3 linked regions of the Homo sapiens genome follow. The protein of the gene in region 3 purifies or fractionates together with the protein of the main gene of each other region. This does not show direct contact. Each region holds a gene or a part of one and is shown on either strand. Other genes may lie near its edges.

Region 1 (3,500 bases), on a different chromosome or scaffold from region 3:
AACAGATGCTAGGGGTAACCCAGAGATCTTCTAAATAAGAAACCCAGAGAGGACTGATAGCCTTAAGTTTTCAAAAACAGTCATATCCCTTCTAAATTCAATAGAGGAATTTGGTACAGAAATTATTCCATTTCAAATAATTCAATCTTATCCTCTCTTTATAATATCAAATGCCAGAAGCATTCTTCATGTTATTTAAGTTTCATGTACTTTCCCTATAACCTGCTCCTTGGTCACACTTACCATTGGAGCAGAACGGCCCATCATAGGCTGAGAAGGCACAGTCACAGGTGACCCCCCTGCGTTTCTCTCTGCATCTCCCTCCATTGCGACACAAGTGTCCATAGGTGCTGCAGTGTCCTGCACACCCTGGCTCCACTCCTGGCGTCACTGTGGCTCTTTCTTCCAGATCCAGGGCCACCCCGTTCAACTGCAGAGACCGAATGCATCCTAGAAAGCCTCTCTGTCTGGTGGCCGTTCCACCTACAACGGAAACACTGCAAATAGAAATGTGTTCCTTGGTATTTTATTCAGGATTTTATGTCCATGTCAAACTCAGGCCTTATGGAGAGTGGCAATAATCACAATGTGTCAAAAAATTTTGTGAACATACACAATTTTGAAAATGTAACTGTTATGAGACATGAAGCTTTAAATGACATTGAATAAAACACTTATTTACATAACTTTCAAACATGGTGAGTCTGGCAAATAGTCCTAAAACATTTCCTTAACTTCAGGTAAGAAAGAATTTCACTTTAGTTCCTTCACAAAGAACAAAATACATAATATAAACCACATCAAACACTATTCTACTTTGTTTAGGAATAAGAATGTGTATTCATCAAACATTATTTTAATTTCTTTATGAATAAGAATGTGCATTATAATGGTTAGGTATGAACTTCCAAATTTTTCACAATAATAAAAATATATATGGATAATTTCTTACTTGGATGGACTCTAAAAATAAAGTGTGAAAGGAAATGGAGAGGCAAAGGAGGGGAAGTTGGAAGGGGTGACACCGTACCCCAGGATCTCCTCCTCTCAGAGGGTACAGTGCTAAACAGTAATTGAATACTGCATGCATGCACATTTTGTCATGTCAAACTTGAATGCTGAAGAAACCATTTAGAGAGGTTTACAACACCTGTGTAGTGACAAACACCATTATGAAGGCGACAATTCTCAATGTTAGGAGCATGGAAATTACCTAGAGTTTCTGGAAAATGCAGTTTTTAGCCTCCTCCCAGAGATTCCAATTCGGTGGGCCTAAGGTGGGGGCCCCAAATCTGAACTATCAATCAGCTTTGTGGGTGATTCTGAAGCCAGTGATTCATCCACCGCAATGAATGCTGATTCTAGGTGAATTTTACGCTAATTGTGTTTCTAGGCATTCCCTTAAATAATCTCCAAGATTACAAGTGAGAAAATCAAGTTCTTGGTTTGACCCCTCCGTGTAGTCCTCCTTTCCAGTAGTTTGATGGTTTCATGTCCTTTGAAAAAGCCTCACTGCACCTTAATAGAAGAGCTAACCACGCCTGAAGCTAGGTTTTAGGAAGTCATGGTATAACACCCCATCCACATCCACATACATACGTGGGTTCACGTGTAGCATTTAGTACCTGGAAGTTGTATCTACCCTTCCCTGTAAATTAGGTTGGATGATAATTTGTGATTTAGTCCAGTTTTAATTAGATTGCATCCTTATTCACTTTAAAACACTTAAGAAATGAACAAGTGAGAGCTTTAATCTGTGTAGCTCCTAAGTTAGAATAGTTTCAAAAGCAATATGGAAAAATAAACAACAGTGATAAAACAGTAAGTAAGCAAACTAAAGGAAAGACTTCCAGAGCTATCACCTTTAAATAAATGGAGTGCAAGAACAGATGAGCCAGACCAGGTTATAAACAAGGAGCCTGTGATGAGAGAGCCCCAGAAGTGAGAACAGCAGCGAGGAAAACCGGGAGTGGGCTCCTGGAAGCCTGGCCGCGGGGGAGGTGCGCAGTGCTGCTTCCAATCAGCGGGTATCCTGCGATCTGGTTTTGAGTGGACCCTGGAGGACTTCTGTCCCAATTACAAGCTCTCTAACTCCACCGAGAAGTGAAACTGAAGGAATGGATAAAAATGTCTAATGATCTCACTAATAGTGTTGATAAAATATAGCTGTCACATATGCCAATCCTCTGCAATGTGAATGGTTCAAGTTTGGGGGTCGGCTATCCTGGGATCCCTCTCATTAGCTGGTTACTCCACTTCTCTGAGGCTTGGCTATCTCATCTGTAAACAGATGACAATACCTAAACATTGATACCTAAACACTGAGATACTGCAGGGCCCGGTGGCTCGCGCCTGTAATCCCAGCACTTTGAGAGGCTGAGGTGGGTGGATCATCAGGTCAAGAGATCACGACCATCCTGGCCAACATGGTAAAACCGTGTCTCTATGAAAAATACAAAAATTAGCCAGGCGTGGTGGCACCTGCGCCTGTAATCCCAGCTACTCAGGAGGCTGAGGCAGGAGAATCGCTTGAACCCGGCAGGTGGAGGTTTCAGTGGGCTGAGATTGCACCACTGCACTCCAGCCTGGGCGACACAGTGAGACTCTGTCTGAAAACAAAAACAAAAACAAAAACAAACAAACAAAAAAAGAAATGTCAAATAAGAAGCACACAGCAAGCTCCTGGAACCTACCAGGTTATCAGCAAATAGTACCAATAAGCAGTAGTTGTTGTTGGCAACTGTTGCTCTCAGTACATCACAGTTCTTATTTTCTTTTGGTCCCTCTCTGGACTCACACTAAATTCAGTTATAAACCACCAGCACTCACCAATGAAGAGCTGGCTGTTGAGCTGTAAACGAACGTGCCCATCAGCAGGGGCAGGCTGCATCTTCTGAGGAAGCTGATCAACTTGAAGAGACGCTCCTTTAACATTTCTCTCTGCCCTCACGTGGTGCCACTGATTGTCATTAAAGGGAGTGGGTGACTGCACCGTGACCTCACAAGGTCCATTCCCCACATCGAAGGAAAAGGTCACTTCTGTGGGAGCTAGAAATATTAGATATGAATATTGCTCAAGCAAATTCACAGAAAATTGAGTCTTGTGCAGACACAGGAAAACATGAAGGCACGCTCAGGATGGAAGGAGATAATGACGGCGATGCAGAAAAACGGGACTGTGAGTTGGGGTGGGGGCAGAATAAATCTGTATCCTGGAGGAAAACAGAACGGATTTTAACATATTTATCCTCAGAGTTCACAATTCAACCTTGTTAAGTCCTAAATAGTAGAGATATGTACCCATAGCTGGACTACCCATAGCTATGTACCTATAGCTAGAATACCAAATAGTATTTGTTTTTGAGGTTTCAGTAATTTTATTTACAAACGGCTCAAAGTCTCATCTAATTCTATAAACACTGAATGTAAATTTTGACAGTCATAAATTAAGCTTTGGGTACATAAAAAACAATATGTCTGGTCAAATATTTTTGGAATTC
Region 2 (3,500 bases), on a different chromosome or scaffold from region 3:
GATTAGAATATTAACCCTTTCCCCCAAAGATTATCTTTTGCGGCTTTATTTCATGCCTATCCTCCCTAATACATAGAATGGTGCTGCATTCGTTCTTATAGAAAATCTTTCTAAACTAAAAATGCAAATCTCTGTTGTAGCTTGTCGTTATTGCCACTACTACTCCCTCATTCAAGCCATCAACATCTTTTCCAGGATGAATTTGATAATCCCTGAACTGGATTCATCATTTCCCTTCTTGTCCTTCTTTTCAGACCAAGCATGATCTCTTTAAAAAGTAAGTTGCATCATTTTCACCTCTGATTAGACAGCCAGTAGCTGCTCAAAATCAGAACCAAACCCAAATGCCTCAATTTGATCTGCATGACCCTACCTGACCTAATCTGACTTCACTGTAAATATGGCTTTCTCTACTTCTGTTCTCTCCCAAACACACACAGTTTATTTCAGACAAAGTGACCTGCTTTCTTTAAAATACCAAAATCACAACTTCCTCTCAAGGGTTGCATAGAAAATTCCTCCCTCTAGATGACTCAGAGCTTGTCCCCTCTCGTCACTTAGTTTTACCAAATATGTCACTTACTCAACAAGGCCTTCTGCGATTATAACTACGACTCCCAATTGCATTGTCCTCAGTCACATTACATTATTTTTCTTTCTTTTTAGCAAGGATGTTATTTATTTATTTGTTTGCTGTTTCTGTCTCCTCTTGCACTAAAGCCCTATCAGCCCAGTTACATTGTCTACCTTGTTCACTTGCTTCATTCCAACCACGTAAAATAGTGATTACCACTTATTTGCTCATCTTTGTCAAATGAGTGAATAAACACATGAGTGATCACCAACTATATGAGTTGCTTCAAGGATCATGTGATTCAGCAAGAAAAAAAAAATTTGAATGAAAAGCGAAGGTATGCTGAAAATGTAAAGAGCTTCTTGCTATTAGTAACTCATATTAAGCAATTAATATAATTAATAAAATAATAGGTATTTATGTAATGCAATACATGATACGATGTGTTTTCACAGACATTACACTCTGTGCACTCACAGAACGTTAGGGTCATAGCTATGTTTATCTTCTCAGAATGGGTCGGAGCAATTTTCTGTAAAACTCTGGTGGTGTTTTCATAGACACCCAGATGAAAATACACACAAGGTAAAACCCTCATGCCCTTCATTACTTTATGTTCTCCTAGCAATGAGAATAGCAAAGGAAGTCAAAATGTGCTAAGATGTTGGTTCTTTCACTGTCAAGATTAATTTCTAAATATTTGACAAGATCACTAGCAAGTGAAAATAGGAAGAAAACGTGCTAGGAGAAGGAACTGTAGAATTGAGTGTAATACAACAACGGACAAAGAAGAAGGTTTAAGTTCTGAATATCTGATATATTTAGTATATCTAAATTCAACATTTAGATTTAGATATTCTAAATGTTGATCATGTTGGATAGTCATCAAATTTTCTTGCAAATAAGATTAGTGTGCTGTTGTATTACAGGACATCAATATAGTGCTCCTGAACTGCTAGTCTTTGTGTTAGAAATGACATCAATACAAGGGCGCTCAGCAAGAGTGCCTGAATTCTGAGTTAGTAATTCCATCTACAAATCTGATGTAGTTATTATGCTTAATGAAAATCTCAAAAATATGGATGCCCAGTGGGCACAATCTGTAGTGCTTTCACCTGATGAGGCAAGAATCTCACTCACGAGGTGGTGTCATTATCACTGTACTTCCAGATCTTAGTCATGAAAAAAATGCCTTAAAAGTTAATAGAGTTGGATAAAGTGGAATATTTCAATAAAGCACACTTGCTATTCTAACATTTTTGTCCCAATAAAAATATACCATTAAAAGCTTTGGAAATGCACAAAATGTCTTAGATAATCTAAAAACTGAATCATTTTTAAATCTCTATAATATCTATTTTAGCAAAAGTTTAAGGTTCTAATTAGCTCAGCTACTTGATCTGAGCAGTAGTGGACAGAAGCTTCAATAAATTCTGACTATCAAAGTTCTCTTTCTTGGCATTGTTTTTCTTCCTTTCCTTACACATCCTAGTTTCAAAAGAAAACAGATGATTCTAAACACATTTCGGTTATCAGCATTACACCTACAGCTTTTCTTTCTCACAAATATCTTAAGATATGCTAGGAACACACAAAGCAACCATAACTAAGTTTCATTTCTCCCCAAAACTCATTGTTAGTTATCTTTTCTCATTTTAAGAAGAAAGGGCTAAGATGACAAATCGTCATTAAAGAAAAACTCAGCGGTAGAAAAATTCTTAAGGAATTATATATTCGTATTTCTAAAGTTAAGCAGTCTTGGAAATCTTGAAGGATGTCAATGCAATGTGGAAAAGTTAGGAAGGGATGTCCTATTGATTGCAAGAATAAAACAAGAGACGATAGGTGGTACCTTGATCTTACCTAAAGAAGAAACATATTCTTTTGACTAAAATGAGGTCATGTTTCAACAATACCTGTCTTTGGTCTGAAGGCTAAGCCAGTCAGGACAATGAGGTGTATGCAACTCAGGAAGAGATGTCTGACTGTTAATAAGAATGTATTGTGAGATGAAATGTAATGTCGGTATCTTAGCAAGGCAACATGATCTATCTTCTTCAAGAAGTTTTTTTTTTTTTTTGGTTATTTTTCTCTTAACAAAGTTGGAAGAAATTGTATATGAAAAGGTACTTTCTCAACTTCTGTAAAGGATATAGTTATAATATTATTCATGTTTAAATGGAAACTTTTAAATACACAAGCTTATATCTGAGAAACTTTTATATACGAGCTTATATTTGAGAAAAATAAGATTAAACAAATGGATCTGTGGTACAAATGTATTAATCAAAATTAATTTTCTTTCTTTTCTAAAGGTAAAGACACCTTTGAAAAGCGTTACGTATTTACAACTATTCTGCAATATTTAAGAAGAAATCCCAAATGTAGACAATACATCATTATTAAACAAATATGAGTAGAGTTATTGAACAACAGAAAAACATGTTTTTTTTAATTTTAATTTTAGATTTGGGGGTACATGTGAAGGTTTGTTACATAGGTAAACATGTGTAACAAGGGTTTGTTGATCATATTATCTTACCACCCAGGTGTTAAGCCCAGTGCCCAATAGTTATCCTTTCTGCTCCTCTTCTTCCTCCCACCCTCCCCCTTGAGTAGACCCCAATCATGTTGAGACATGATTATTTCCAAAATGAACATTACTCTTTTCCACTAAGGATACTTACAAATTTGAAGTAATAGGGAATAAGATCAACAAATGGGTATACTCATTTATTTATTCATGCCATTGCATTTTTAAAAATCATAATTGGGTACCTAATTGTAGACTAAAACTAAGTTAATGTGACTGCATATGAAAATTATTATAGTCATATTTAAAAGAGCATTTAATCCTGTTGTCCAATTTATGAATGATTTCCACTATATATATTCTTTATTGAGAGAAAATCTTTGAAATCACATT
Region 3 (3,500 bases):
GACTATCTTCCCGAGTCCGTGACTGGTGTCTGAGTTTTGGGTCCATGGATAAAATGCGTCTCCTTTGTCTCTACTAGAGAGGAAAGAGAACTGGAATTGGAAGGACAGGGAGATTGAAGGGTAGCAAGAGAGGCTGGAGAAGACAGTGAAAAGACCGCTTACCCAATTTGAAATGGGTGAGATGTTCCTTGGGCTGGTTGGTCTGAGGACCTGAGGTCATAGGTGGACCTCCTCATGGAGTGAAGGCGAGGACAGGGGACCAGTCTCCTGAAGGAGTCCCCCTGTTCTGGGTCTTCGGCACTAAATGCCACACGCGTCCATGTGAAGAGACCACCAAACAGGCTTTGTGTGAGCAATAAAGCTTTTTAATCACCTGGGTGCAGGCAGACTGAGTCCAAAAAAGGAGTCAGCAAAGGGAGATGGGGTGGGGCAGTTTTATAGGATTTGGGTTGGTAGTGGGAAATTACGGTCAAAGTGGGTTATTCTCTAGCGGGCAGGGGCGGGGGTCACAAGGTGCTCTGGTGGGGAGCTCCTGAGTCTAATTGTCCAGGAGAAGGAATGTCACAAGGCTAATTGATCAGTTAAGGTGGGGCAGGAACAAATCACAGTGGTGGAATGTCATCAGTTAAGGCAGGAATTGGTTATTTTCACTTCTTTTGTGGTTCTTCAGTTGCTTCAGGCCATCTGGATGTATACGTGCAGGCTTGGGCTCAGAGACCTGACAGCTCCCTAATTTGCTTCTAAATATTCTAAGGGAGAAGGAAGAGCTGTGAGAATTGTCTTTGAGAGGAATCATTCTCTCTGGAGTAAATGAGACAAATCTTCTGTGTTGTGGTCATGGATCTGATAGGCATTAGTCTTTGACCAGAGTTTATGAGGTTATTAAGGTGCATGCATGTTTATAAACTAAACAAGAATTTAAAAGTCAGAGAAAAAAAATAATACCATAGCACAGTCTTCTCAGGTACCTTCGGTTTAGGTCCTTTATTACAAGGAAAACATAAAAAATCTTTCAATCAGTAAGAGCACATAAGTCTTAATGATCTAGTACATTTTTTAGTACTTTGACTTACTAGGGTGATTCAAAGTTTCAGGAAAAAGAAAATTCCCAGTATCATTTTCTTAATCTTATTAAACCCAAACATAAGAATGCCAAAAAATACAGAGCTCACATTTTGCTGGCATACATTTCCAAATTTTTAATGCCTCCCTGACAGGTGAATTTTAAGGATAAAAAAAGCAGACACTTTCAAAACATTCCTTGTGATGAAGTAGAAAAAGCCCTGGATAAGTGGCCAGCTACACTGGATTTTTGTCTCAATTCTTCCATTAACTTTACAGTCTTCAGCAAATCCCTTAACTTTGAGCTTCTATATGTAGTGACATCATTATAAGTGCTGTGGTATTAAAATGTGATAAACATAGATGAAAGCATTTTGAAATGTTTGAAATACTACATAAATACACATAATAACTAAATTCCACAGGATAGGATCTGAGAGAGCTAAGCTGACCAGTATTATAAAAGGAAGCTTATTACAGAAAAGCCCAGCCTCATTCATTACAGGTTTATGTCTCCATATCTCTTTGGTGCAATGTATTTAATAGAATGAGTTATATAGAGAAAAAGAGTAGGAAATGAGCTGAGGAGACAGAGCCTGGGACAGCTCAAATGCATTACTCACTGCTATTTAAGGAGTAAGTGTAAGGTCAACCACTCGCGATAATCCCTACATGGTGGCATCTAACCGTCAAAGTGCACAGGCACCTGTGGGTTACCCTCACAGGCAATGACAACACGTCTAGTGCTCGCTATGGCCCGATATCTGCAGTTGGGTGCCCTGGAACTTCCTGTGTCCCTGCAATCTGTGACCTTCACTACACCCTCATGGCAGTTCATCTTGCCGTTCTTGCATTGGATATTGGTGGTGCTGCAGATACTACGAATGTTCCAGATATCTTCATGGATGAAGGTGTTGAAGCGCTTGCAGTGATACAAAGTCATCTTCCGTCTTTGCATCATCAAGTTGCAGTAGCGATCACTGCCACCTGTCTCCTCAGGGTGCACGTGTTGCCGCAGGAATCGCTGGTACATGCCATCCTGGCCATAGGAGGGCTGGACCAGCCCCAGCCCCAGCAGGGTCAGCAGCAAAAGCAGAAGCAATGAATGGGTCCTCTGCAGAGCCATCAGTATCTTAGAGGTGCCTAGAAAAGAAAGCAAGGGGCAGGAGAAATAAGGTAAGAACTGGGCACTGGAAAAAGGTGTTGAGAATAGCAAGCCGGCATCCTGACTCCATAGTCTCCTCTTTCCTCCTTCTTATATGCACCATCTCCCCACTCATCTCTGCTACTTTTCCCACCCTTCTTCCTCAAGAGTGAGTAGTTTGCAAACATGATCTTTTCTGAAAGCAAGACCTTTCTCATTTACAGAGAGAAGTTGCTGTGGCCAGTACAATGACACAGGGCAGGGACTGACTGCGTGGCTGCCAGGTTTGTGTGGACAGAGTATAAAAAGAGAGAAAAGGTGAACCTACATGAAACTGCAGTTGTGTGTCTCTTGGGGGAACTCCGTAGGTGTATGATCTTTGGGGAGTGTTTGGTTCCCGGGAGGCTCCAATTCCCGACAGTTTGGATAGACTCAGCATACGTCACAGAAAGTTTACAAACTACTTTTAATACCTTACATCTGGGAATCTAGGTGGAGGAAGAGGACAGAGGAATATTTAGGCTTTGCCTTTCCTCTCACATGACTATTGTTTTTCTTTGTCATTAATTTTATTATTTTTCTTTTCTTTTTTGTCATGTGGCTATTATTCTAATGTGATTTAAAATCTATTCTAATTCTAGAATAATATATGTTATACATTAATTTAAAATGTATTATTCTAATTCTAATGTAAAATCAGGTCCTTTTGGAAATCCTTTTAATTCTATTTTTTAAAAAAAAGCAAAACCAGAATACCCAGTTACAGTTCTTAGAAGACAGTTGATAATAGCTACTGTTTGAATGAACTAATAAGTGAAATGAGTAAGCTAATGAACAAATGCAATTAAATGGATAGAGTAAAGATGTTTCCCAGGCTTATGAAATTGACTAATAAGAAAAGCTAAGAAATGTTTAAAAAATAAATTTAAACAGCACAATATTCTCAAAAGAAAACTTGGATTGTGTCTTCTTCTCCTTGCTGTTTCTATGCATAACCTAAAAAATCTAGGCCATGGAGATACATTGCTTTGTCTTGCATCTATTCTTGATGTTCCTTCTGTCTTGTCAATAGTTGTTGGTAGCTGTCTGTCTTCTCTGGTTGCAGCATCATTGTGTTGTCACCTCTTGGCAGTGAAAAATAGGCATATATTTTATAGCATTAAAAAAAAAAGCCAGAGTGGCAACAAAAAAAGCATTGCCATGTAGTTTCAGAACATTCATTGCTTTCATTGACAGATTAAAGAAAGGAATCCAGGCCTATCTTAGTCTACACCCTGTGCTCTTTCCACTATCT

What was found. The genes of interacting proteins can lie anywhere in the genome.
Region 1: the proteins of RNASE4 (region 3) and CNTNAP3 purify together in Homo sapiens (affinity purification with mass spectrometry; one large-scale study listed by BioGRID and IntAct). This does not show direct contact.
Region 2: the proteins of RNASE4 (region 3) and LRP1B purify together in Homo sapiens (affinity purification with mass spectrometry; one large-scale study listed by BioGRID and IntAct). This does not show direct contact.

What each region holds. Positions count from the first base shown.
Region 1 is NC_000009.12:39,099,668-39,103,167, forward strand, and holds part of CNTNAP3 (contactin-associated protein-like 3 isoform 1 precursor), read right to left. Parts: intron 3,049-3,500; coding exon 2,830-3,048; intron 484-2,829; coding exon 244-483; intron 1-243.
Region 2 is NC_000002.12:142,121,017-142,124,516, forward strand, and holds part of LRP1B (low-density lipoprotein receptor-related protein 1B precursor), read right to left. Parts: intron 1-3,500. UniProt on the Homo sapiens protein: Potential cell surface proteins that bind and internalize ligands in the process of receptor-mediated endocytosis.
Region 3 is NC_000014.9:20,698,060-20,701,559, reverse strand, and holds the end of RNASE4 (ribonuclease 4 precursor), read right to left. Parts: intron 2,525-3,500; exon of another isoform or gene 2,431-2,524; intron 2,239-2,430; exon of another isoform or gene 2,206-2,238; 5' UTR 2,189-2,205; coding exon 1,745-2,188; 3' UTR 344-1,744; downstream 1-343.